Linked DNA regions of Homo sapiens. The protein of the gene in region 2 purifies or fractionates together with the protein of the main gene of each other region. This does not show direct contact. Each region holds a gene or a part of one and is shown on either strand. Other genes may lie near its edges.

Region 1 (3,653 bases), on a different chromosome or scaffold from region 2:
AGTACTTCAATTAAGTACAATTTAGAAGAACTCTACCAGGTATGTATTAATATGCATAACCAGATTTGATTAACATAAATTGAGGTGGGATGTATATGGATTTTGCTTTCTGAAATAGGTTCTTAAGTAGACTTTTGGTTCCCTTCTAATTTTAGTTTCTCCATTAATTGATGAACTCTATAATTAGACCACGTATTCTCACATAAACCATGGGTACAGTCATACCAGTATAAGTTGTGCTTATATTTGACCCTCCTGATAAGAAATTACAGTTACGTGTACCTTGGTGTAATAGAAGTTCTACCTATAATGTAATCCTATAGCATGAATCCCAAAGATGATTTCTGGTGACATGTCATTCTATTGTGATAATTGTTTCTTAGTTGTGTTACCTACCCATAGGAAAGGCCTCAAGACATGCAGATATTATTCATATCCTTTATTCTACCTCCTTCTTAATAGTAGACTTTGCCATTTCTTTTTCTTGCTCTTTACATTTTTCTAATACCTGGGCTACAAGACGCACCTTAGCCCAGAAATGAGTAGCAGTTTGTAGTCCAGCAGCTTAGTCTGAGGTTCAGATTCTTTACTTAGCAAATGGGTCCTTACACTTAAATATAATTTTAAGGGCAGTTCCTAAGGGCAATCCCTTGCTACCAAGAAATTTTTCCCTACTGTGTATTTGACACACAACCAATTCAAGAAGTTACTTTCATTAGAGTGTCAGGGATTTGGTGTTAAAAGATACTTCAGGCCGGGCACGGTGGCTCACACCTGTAATCCCAGCACTTTGGGAGGCCAAGGCTGGCAGATCACCTGAGGTCAGGAGTTCGAGACCAGCCTGACCAACATGGAGAAACCCCGTCTCTACTAAAAATACAAAATTAGCCAGGCAATGTGGTGCATGCCTGTAATCCCAGCTACTCAGGAGGCTGAGGCAGGAGAATCGCTTGAACCCAGGAGGTAGAGGTTGCGGTGAGCCGAGATTGCACCATTGCACTCCAGCCTGGGCAACAAGAGTGAAACTCCATCTCAAAAAAAAAAAAAAATATATATATACTTCAGAGTACAATAGCTTGAATTTTTGTATTGATGAGTACCTTGTAAGAAATTATGTTGGTTTTATTTATCAGTATTTGTATATTTTAGTTGCAGAGCTAGTATGGTGATGGGTAAACCTGGATTAGGAGTCAGAAGATGGGTTTGGGATCTAGTTTTGACTGCTGTTACCCTCATAATCTTGGGCCAGGTACTAAAGCCCTCTCAGTTTTTTTTCCTGTTTTTTTAAGAGATAGGGGTCTTGCTATGTTGCCCAGGCTGGTCTTGAACTCCAGGGCTACAGCAGTCTTGTCACCTCAACCTCCCAAGGTGCTGAGATTACAGGCATGAGCTACCAAACCCAGCCGTCACTCTCAATTTAAATTTCCTCCTCTCTAAAGTAGAGGAAATAATAGTTTGCCCTACCTGTCTCACAAGGTTGCTGATAAGAATCAAATAAGATATTTGTGGAAAACGCCTCCAGGCACTATAATCTTACAAATATAAGATGGTATCACGAGTCAAACTTTTTTACAAGCCACATTATAGCTTCTTCACTTGTAGTATGACAATTGAGATCACCAGTTTCTGTTGCTGTGAAAATTAGTACACGCAAAATACTCAAATCAGTGCACAACACATAGTAATAATGCCGTGTAACATTATAAGCATTATAATGCTATGCAAATGTCGGCTAGTAGTTGTAGTACTAAGCTATTACTTAAGAATAAGCCCATTTCATATGGCTCTTTTGGCGTATTATATATGCGTCTCTTAAAATGTACAACAATAAAAGCCAAAATATGAAACTGACTTGGAAAGGCCTTAAGAGAGCATGTGGTCCAATATTTTTTCTTTGTGGTGTCCATGACAGCCTGCAAAGGGGATTCATCTCGTATTATCTCATATAAGCATTATGGAAACCCTTTCTGGGGTACGTAGGGTAGTAGTTACTATCCCCACTTTTTTTTTTTTTTTTTTTTGAGATGGAGTCTTGCTATGTCACTCAGGCTGGAGTGCAGTGGCGTGATCTCGGCTCACTGCAACCTCCACCTCCCGGGCTCAAGTGATCCTCTTGCCTCAGCTTCCCAAGTAGGTGGAATTACAGGCGCCTGCCACCACGCCCTGCTAGTTTTTGTATTTTTAGTAGAGACAGGGTTTCACCATGTTGGCCGGGCTGATCTCGAACTCCTGACCTCAAGTGATCCACCCGCCTCCACCTCCCAAGGTGCTGGGATTACAGGTGTGAGCCACCGCGCCTGGCCTATCCCCACTTTATTGATGAGGAGACTGAGTCTCAGAGAAGTTGAATAACCTGCCCAGAGTCACATATTGGCAGAGCAGGGGCAACTCAAACTGAGATGCTGGATTTCTAGTTCATTGCACTTTTACTCCTGTACCACCTCACTAATATACCCTGGTACTTTGAATACCACTGTAGTGCAGTGTTTGAAACAATTAAATTGTTTTACTTTAGGGAAAAAGCTCTTTATAATTTTAGTAGTATTTTTATCTGTGCATGCATAAGTGGTGTTTATTTGGATAGTATATGGTGTTTATTTGGATATGCTGGTATACAGCATATTTAATTTCAATAATATTTTATATATTCCATATTTGTAACAAATGTTTATTGTGGTTATTAATTAACCCTATTTACTTTACCTTGAATATTTTTCCAGAGCTTTTGATTTGAAAATACTTTTCCTGATACATTGATTCTGTTAAATCTTTTTCTTTCAAGAGCATAGAGCTTGCATCTCTTGTTTTTGTTTTCTTGTACTTCGTAAGTTTTACCTGCTGTTGTTCAGTTGCATTTCTTTAGCCTAGTCACAAGTCTTATAACTTCACTGTTTGCATTTTTCATAATACCTTACTGCTTTTGCTATAATGAATTCAAAAGCATTGGTTTTTAGCTCTTTTACTGTTTTTGACCTTAATTTTATAAATGTTCCTTTGGATTGTTCTCAGAAAGATTATTTTGAGATGTTCAAGTTCAAACAGGAGGATAAAGGAGGTAAAGCTATTTCATATAATCTGGACTTCAGGTGCTTGTTTGATTTTGACTCATTGAAACGTAATTAGAAGTACTCTCTCAATCTACCTGAGTGGGAAATAAAAACATAAGAAAAAGTACTCTTCTAAAATTGAAATAATGTGGAAATATGTAGTTATACAAAAGTTCTCCAAACCCCTGTCCCACCCTCTTTCTCTGAGGTAAACACTTACTGGCATATATCTGCTTAGAACTTACTTCTGCATGAAAAAACATTTTGCTTTAAAGCTTTAAGTATGGAAGTCCCTAGTGTGGGTTGCATGTACTGCCTACTAAGTTTTTAATTTCTATAAAAGAACATGCTGTTCTAAGTACACTTGCAGTAAGCAAACATTGTCTTTTTAAAGTAATTTTAAATTAGAATTGGACCTGAGTTTTAAAATTATCTTTCCTTGACAACCTTGAGATCCTGTGGGTGTGAGGCAGTGATTAATGTTTTCATTTGACTGTTTTGTTTGTTTGCGTGCTTGTTTTTAATTGACTGCAAATAAGACTGATTAAATGCACTGACTTTTGAGCTGTCCAGCCTGCCTTAGGTTACAAATCTGTCACTCATCAT
Region 2 (3,653 bases):
TACATATTCTTGTGATTTAAAACCAAATATTTTAAGTGATATATCTAATAGAAATTGACATGAAATTATTTCATTTAAAAGTTACAATAAAAGGCAAATAGACATCCGTATTTGTCTCATTTTAGAAAACATAGGCTTTAAGAATCAAAAGTAAGCTTCCAAGCTCACGGCCAGGATTACAACTTCATATTACAGAAATGTTTAATAACAAATATTTGACTAACAGATTATAATTCTGAAGTTGTACATTTTTAAAAGCCTTTTAATTTTGCTTCTTTACTAAAAAAACTATGAACTGATGAACTCACAATAGAAAATTAATAATAATTTCAGGGAAAAAAAAAAAAGGCACATCCAGGCACCACATTCAAGGTGATCGGTAAAACGCAGTGTCCCGGGTCTACTGCACATAATCAACAGACTGCAAATAAACTACTCCGGAAAATTCTAAAATAGGACAAGAATATTCTGTAAAAGCCGGGATAACACGACTGCACTGACGCTCTGCTAGAGGGCTGTTCTGTTGCCAAGGTGCGAGCTTCCCAGAAGGAGCAGCTGCTGGCCATCTAAGCGCTCACTCCCCACAGACGCTTCCCTTCCACGGTCCATCATCTCCGAGCCATCAGAGGCTGGACCGTCTCTCCGGTCTGGGCACACACCTCGTGATTGCAGCTCTCCACAGCACCGGGGCGAGCAAGAGGCTGAGCGTGGTCACACTCAGTATAAGGAGGTACACCTGCAACAGCAAAGTGCAGAGCGGGTCACAGAGACTGTCAGGACTAGCACCTGCAACAGGAAAGCACAGGGCTGGTCTCACTGAGCTGGGAGGGACGCCTGCAAAGCTAGAGTCCTGAGGCTGAGCACAGTCACGCTGAGTGCTGGGAGGGATGCCTGCACGGGGGGGTGGGGGATGGAAGCTAAGCGCGGTCATGCCGAGTGCTGGGAGGGACGCCTGCACATCATAAATTCACTACTATCTCTTTAAAGCACATGGAAGTACAGCCAGAAGCTGAGGACATTGGGATGTAGGAGAGACTGTGATTTCAAGATCAGTGATGCATGGTTAGTCCTGATGGGCCACAGGATAACAGCTTTAGCCTGTGTTTGCCTGAAGGCCAACCCCGGGCCACAGTAACAAGCCAGCCTGCCCCACAGCTTCCCTGACCCTGGGGATGCGGCCTTGGGTCAGGCCTCAGGTGGAGCTTCCTGTAAGCAATTCTACCTTTCAGCAATTACTTCCACTGCACTCAACACCTGGACTTCTACCCGCCTCACACTTACACAATGCAAGGAGACAAGGCCGTGAGTCCGAATGCCCAGGGCCATCTCAGTGTCCACAGGAACCTCCACCCAGCTCTCCGGGCACACTGCCATTACGGGTATTTCACGTTTCTGGGGTGCTACTTATGTGCACACTGGCAGTTCAGCTTTAAAAAGTTAGTTTTCTTTCAGAAGAAATATCTGACATTTAATTAGACTTGTTGTAAAAGGTTAATGCAATAGTTCAAGCAGTACTAACTGCAACTTTCCTCTGAAAACGCCACATGCTGGATGAGCAGAGAGCAGCCAGGCCTCTGCGTGCCCCCCTGGAGGAGGACCCTGCCCCCAGGCCCCGCTGTGCTGCCGAGCCGCCTTCGCCACACCCGACTCAAACCCAGAGTGCAGCCCGTGCCGCCCGAGAAGCGCTCCGCGGGGGGAAGCCACTCACCTCCCGAGAGATGACGCCCGCTCTTCGCGCCCGGCTCCCCAGGACAAAGGAAAACTCGCTGACCTGGGCAAGCCCCGCAGAGACGATCCACTTGATGTACTGGCTGCTCCTCGGCAGAATGAGAGACAGGACCAGCGCCGCCAGGAGAAACTGCAAGAGCGGTTCATTACGTCACTGCTGAAGACTGGACCCACACAGAGTTAAACACACACGAAACAGAGAACCCAGACGAGCCACAGGCACGCTGCGATGGTCCCTGAATAACACGTCAAGTAGGGAAAGGCACAGAAGCACTCCAAACACCCGAAGGCACCAAATACACGCAAAACCTCTTAAATAATCCACACTGAACAATAAGGCAAAATTAAGCCTTTCGGTTCATTAGCAGAAAATAATAAGCCTTGCCCAAGCCCCCCCGCCCCCGCCCCAACCAAACTAGATTAATAGCATTAAGCGTGGGGTACTCAAGGTGGAAATTTCTTTTTAATACAGAGAGATGTGTGTCTCTGGGCCGAGCAGCTAAGAGCTGGTGGTGTGTCTTTGGGCCGAGTAGCTAAGAGCTGGTGGAGTGGTCCAACGATCATCACAGCTTCTGGCTCCTTAAAACGGAAATGACCTAAGTCACTGTCTATGAGCCAGAAAGCCACTGGTTGCTGACTAGGTCATCACACCTTCAATTAAATGTGGACACAGGCAGCTCGATCACTGGCAGTCACGGGGGACAGACAGAAAGTGCCTACACCATTTTCCAGTCTTTAAAAAGCATGTCTGCATCTGTCAGAGGAGGACGGGCTGGACTGCAGCCAAGGCCCGTCCTGAGGGTCCCAAAAGGTTAGTTCCCCCCTTTAAACACGCTCAATTCTGAAACAATCGATCACATGGACAAACCCAGACCGCCCAGCCTCGTCTACATCTGCCTCCCCCGGGGTCCAGTGGCCCAGTGGGCCTCCTCCGAGATGAGGAGCAGGGCCGGCTCTGCAGGCCCGATGTGGGCCCCACTGGAAACCAGGGCCACAGGGAGGGCTATGCTGAGCCTGCAAACTGCGAGGGGCGTGGACCCTTCCAGTCCATACCTTCATCACCACCACTGACAAGGTGAGGAACACCAGCACCGTGAGCTCGTACGCCACAAACGTGGGGAACACGTGGAGCCCTGTTGGGAACAGGACAGACACGTTACGACCGCAGGACAGCCTCCCCCAGCGCACACTATTTCTCACAACTTCAGTGTGTCACTTGCTTCAATACAGGAATTAAAATCCTAAATCCTCCCAAGTGCACGTGTGAAAGCAACAGCAAATGCTAAAAAGCCGCCCCTTTCCTGAGCGAACCGGGGAAAAGCCTGCCCTGGGATGACCTGTCTGATGTGGTGGGATCCCAGCTCCACTCCCTGCAACAGGCCTCAACTGCAGAGGACACAGCAAAACACACAGAGGCGGCACTCGGTCTGGCACTCCTTCAGGAAATATTCCAGCTGAGGTGCAGATGATCCCAGAGCCCACAGCCCCACAGTGCCCAGGAGTGCCCAGGAGTGCCACGCTCACAGGACGCCTGTGGTCAATGTTCCTTTCCTTCCTTTATTTGGCTCACACATTTTTAAAAACAATGGGAAACGTTGTCTCCACATATTTCTTCTCTCTGCTCTCAGGACTCTCGGACTGGGCTGCTCAGTCCTGCTGTGCTGCCGAGTGACGCAGAGGGGCCGGCGGTGCTGGGGCTGGACCTGAGCTTGGGCTCAGCTCTCCAGCCACAGCCTGGAGCTGCCCAGTGATGCATGTCAGCCCTCGGAGGAAGCCCGGCAGCCCAGAGGCCTCCTCTTGATCGGAAGGACCCAGACCCCAGGGTTAGGTGCACGGAGCAGGCCCATGACCTTTCTGCCGTTCACAAACCACTGTCTCTACCTGACCCAGAAACACAAATGTAAACACTGGCCTTTTTTCTCTTG
Region 3 (2,986 bases), on a different chromosome or scaffold from region 2:
AGAAAAAGAACCACCCCACATCTTCCAGGCATGAGGAGCCCCAGTGAAGTCCGTTGTGCTCAAGGGGGCCTCCTTGTGCGGTGCCACTTAGGAGGCTGCAGCTCCTTCCTCATCCAGGGGTCGCTGTTCATTTGGGGACAGCCAAGCATACAGGGAGGGAGGACTGTGGTCTCCAAGCAGCCAAATGATGTGCCCAATGCGCATGTCCCTTATTTAAACCCAAGCCAGAGCCTGCTTTGTATTTTATACACAGTTCTAGCAAATGTGACTGTTTTATCCCCAAGTTCATGGCCACATTAGCAGGAATGGGTCAGACAAGGAGTGGCCACTGGCACGCTGGCCCTGCTGATAGTCTATCCAGGTGTGATTTTTTAAAAATTTTTTTGAGATGGAGTCTTGCTGTATCACCCAGGTTGGAGTGTAGTGATGCTGTCTCGGCTCACTGCAACTTCCACCTCCCGGATTCAAGCGATTCTCCTGCCTCAGCCTCCCGAGTAGCTGGGATTACAGGCACCCGCCACCACACCCGGCTAATTTTTATATTTCTAGTAGAAATGGGGTTTCACCATGTTGGCCAGGCTGGTCTCGAACTCCTGACCTCAAGTGATCCGCCCGCCTTGGCCTCCCAAAGTGCTAGGATTATAGGCAGGTGTGATTTTTGTGGTTGCTTCAGGGATGGGGTGGGTGGGGCTCAAAGGCTTGTCTTCCAAAGGCCTCTGTGACCGAGTCTTGAGGTGGAGTTGGGCTTGTGCTGGAGGAGTCCTTTCAGAGTTTGTCAGATGGTCCCTTTTGTGCTGACTGGTGTATGTGTGCCCTGGCGGGGGAGTGGGGTGGGATGCTGGGGCTGAGAGTGTGGGGGTGGTGGGAAATGAGCGGTTCTGGAAGGCTCGGTGGTCTGCATTAGCCTTTATTTTGTTTTTCCAGCTTCATGTGTCCAGCCTTCTCTCTAGTGTCTTTAAGTTGCTGATGACTCACAAGGTGAGGGCCATTCAGAGGGGAGGTCTCTGGGGAAGGTGGGACGGGGCAGGGAGGAATGGGAGGACACAGGGTGGTGGGAGGCGCTTCTATTATATGGTTCTTGTTTTTTGTTGTTGTTTTTCTTTTTTTTGAGACAGAGTCTCACTCTGTCGCCCAGGGTGGAGTGCAGTGGCGCGATCTCGGCTGACTGCAGCCTCTGCTTCCTGGCTTCCAGTGATTCTCTTGCCTCAGTCTCCTGAGTAGCTGGGATTACAGGCTCCCACCACCACGCCTGGCTAATTTTTGTATTTTTAGTAGAGACGGGATTTCACCATGTTGGCCAGGCTGATCTCGAACTCCTGACCTCAGGTGATCCACCCTTCTCGGCCTCCCAAAGTGCTGGGATTACAGGCGTGAGCCACTGTGCCCGGCCTATTATATATTTTGAAAGCATTTTTAGTAACAAGCCATTTGCAACAAGTGCTTCGTAGCTGTTAGTCTATCTGTCAAGTCAGTGCAGTCTAAGTATCTGTGACATTTAAATGTAGAAAAGTGTATTTAAAAATGTAGAAACAGCCTACCTCTGGCTTTTCATGTCTTTCCCTCCTTGGTTCACTTTCATGATGCTTGTGTTAATGTAAGTCATGCTTAGCTCTTTCCTGGTGGAATGAAGTCCTGGGGTCCAGAGGCCGCTCTAGAGGGTCATGCCTTGTGTCCTGGTGCTTTCAGAGGCCCTAGCGGGACTGCTGTGGCCCCTGCCTGGCTGCTGTAGTCCATTAGAGGGAGCTGGCCTCATGGTTCATCTTAGCCTGTGCCCCGGCTCTGTCGCCTTGTCATGGAGCCTAGTCTCCGGCACTCTTTAAACTAAGGCTGCTGGCCAGGGACAAGCAGTGTTGAAGGTGGAGAAGGGAGGACCTCGTTGGAAGATGGCCTTTTCCATTGCATTACTTAACTATATGACATCTATTAGTAACCAATTTATCCCCTCAGTCTTCCAAGAGGCAGGCACCAAAGCCGAGAGGCCGAGCAGCTCACCTGTGGCCATGTGGGCAAGCCCCCGCCTGCTGCTGGGTCCTCCCGCCTCCGTGGCTCACTCTGAGCATCTGCTCCCCACACAGTTTCCAGCACGGTGGGTGAGGGGCCTTGAGTGTTTGCTGCTGCTGCTGCTGTTCCCAGGATGGAAGAGGAGACAGAGGGCCTAGGGCAGCTACTGCACTCCAAGCACTTCACTAGGCACTTAAGTTTGAAAACATTTACAAATTTTTCATTGTGATGAAAAACACATAAAATTTAACCCCCCAACCCTCTCCAGATGCATAGTGTTAGCATTGTGCAACAGATCTCTAGGTCTTTCTCATTTGGCAGAGCTGAAACTCTACAGCCATTGACCAGCTCCCCATTCCCCTCTCCATCCGGCCCTGGGAACCACCATGCTGTTTTACGTTTCCATGATTTTGGCTACTCTTGATATTTCATATAAGTGGAATTATAAAGTATACTGTCCTTTTGTGATTGGCTTGTTTTACTCAATATAATGTCCCCAGGTTTCATCCATGTTGTAACATGTGACAGGATTTCCTTTTGAGACAGGGTCTCACTGTGTCACCGAGGCTGGAGTGCAGTGGTGCAAGCTTGGCTCATTGCAACCTCTGCTTCCTGGGTTCAAGCAATTCTCGTGCCTCAGCCTCCCAAGTAACTGGGATTACAGGCAAGTGCCACCATGCCCAGCTAATTTTTGTATTTTTAGTAAGAGATAGGGTTTCGTCATGTTGGCCAGGCTGGTCTCGAACTCCTGACCTCAAGTGATCCACCTGCCTTGGCCTCCCGAAGTGCTGCGATGACAGGCGTGAGCCACCGCGCTTGGCCTGTTATTCTGTTGATGCTGTTGATGTTCACGTGGGTTGCTTCCACTTCTTGGTTATAGTGAATAATGCTGCAGTGAACATGAATGTGTAAATATCTTTTCAAGATCCTACTTTCAAATTTTAGAAAAGTTTTAAAAACATTTAATGTAGCCAGTAAGGTCTAT

What was found.
Region 1: the proteins of SLC9D1 (region 2) and CUL4B purify together in Homo sapiens (affinity purification with mass spectrometry; 2 studies listed by BioGRID and IntAct, with this or other methods). This does not show direct contact.
Region 3: the proteins of SLC9D1 (region 2) and ADCK2 purify together in Homo sapiens (affinity purification with mass spectrometry; 2 studies listed by BioGRID and IntAct, with this or other methods). This does not show direct contact.

What each region holds. Positions count from the first base shown.
Region 1 is NC_000023.11:120,554,310-120,557,962, reverse strand, and holds part of CUL4B (cullin-4B), read left to right. Parts: coding exon 1-39; intron 40-3,653.
Region 2 is NC_000013.11:113,546,508-113,550,160, reverse strand, and holds part of SLC9D1 (transmembrane and coiled-coil domain-containing protein 3 isoform 1 precursor), read right to left. Parts: intron 2,862-3,653; coding exon 2,782-2,861; intron 1,859-2,781; coding exon 1,709-1,858; intron 737-1,708; coding exon 623-736; coding exon of another isoform or gene 609-622; 3' UTR 1-608. UniProt on the Homo sapiens protein: Probable Na(+)/H(+) antiporter.
Region 3 is NC_000007.14:140,689,836-140,692,821, forward strand, and holds part of ADCK2 (uncharacterized aarF domain-containing protein kinase 2), read left to right. Parts: intron 1-924; coding exon 925-978; intron 979-2,986. UniProt on the Homo sapiens protein: The function of this protein is not yet clear. It is not known if it has protein kinase activity and what type of substrate it would phosphorylate (Ser, Thr or Tyr).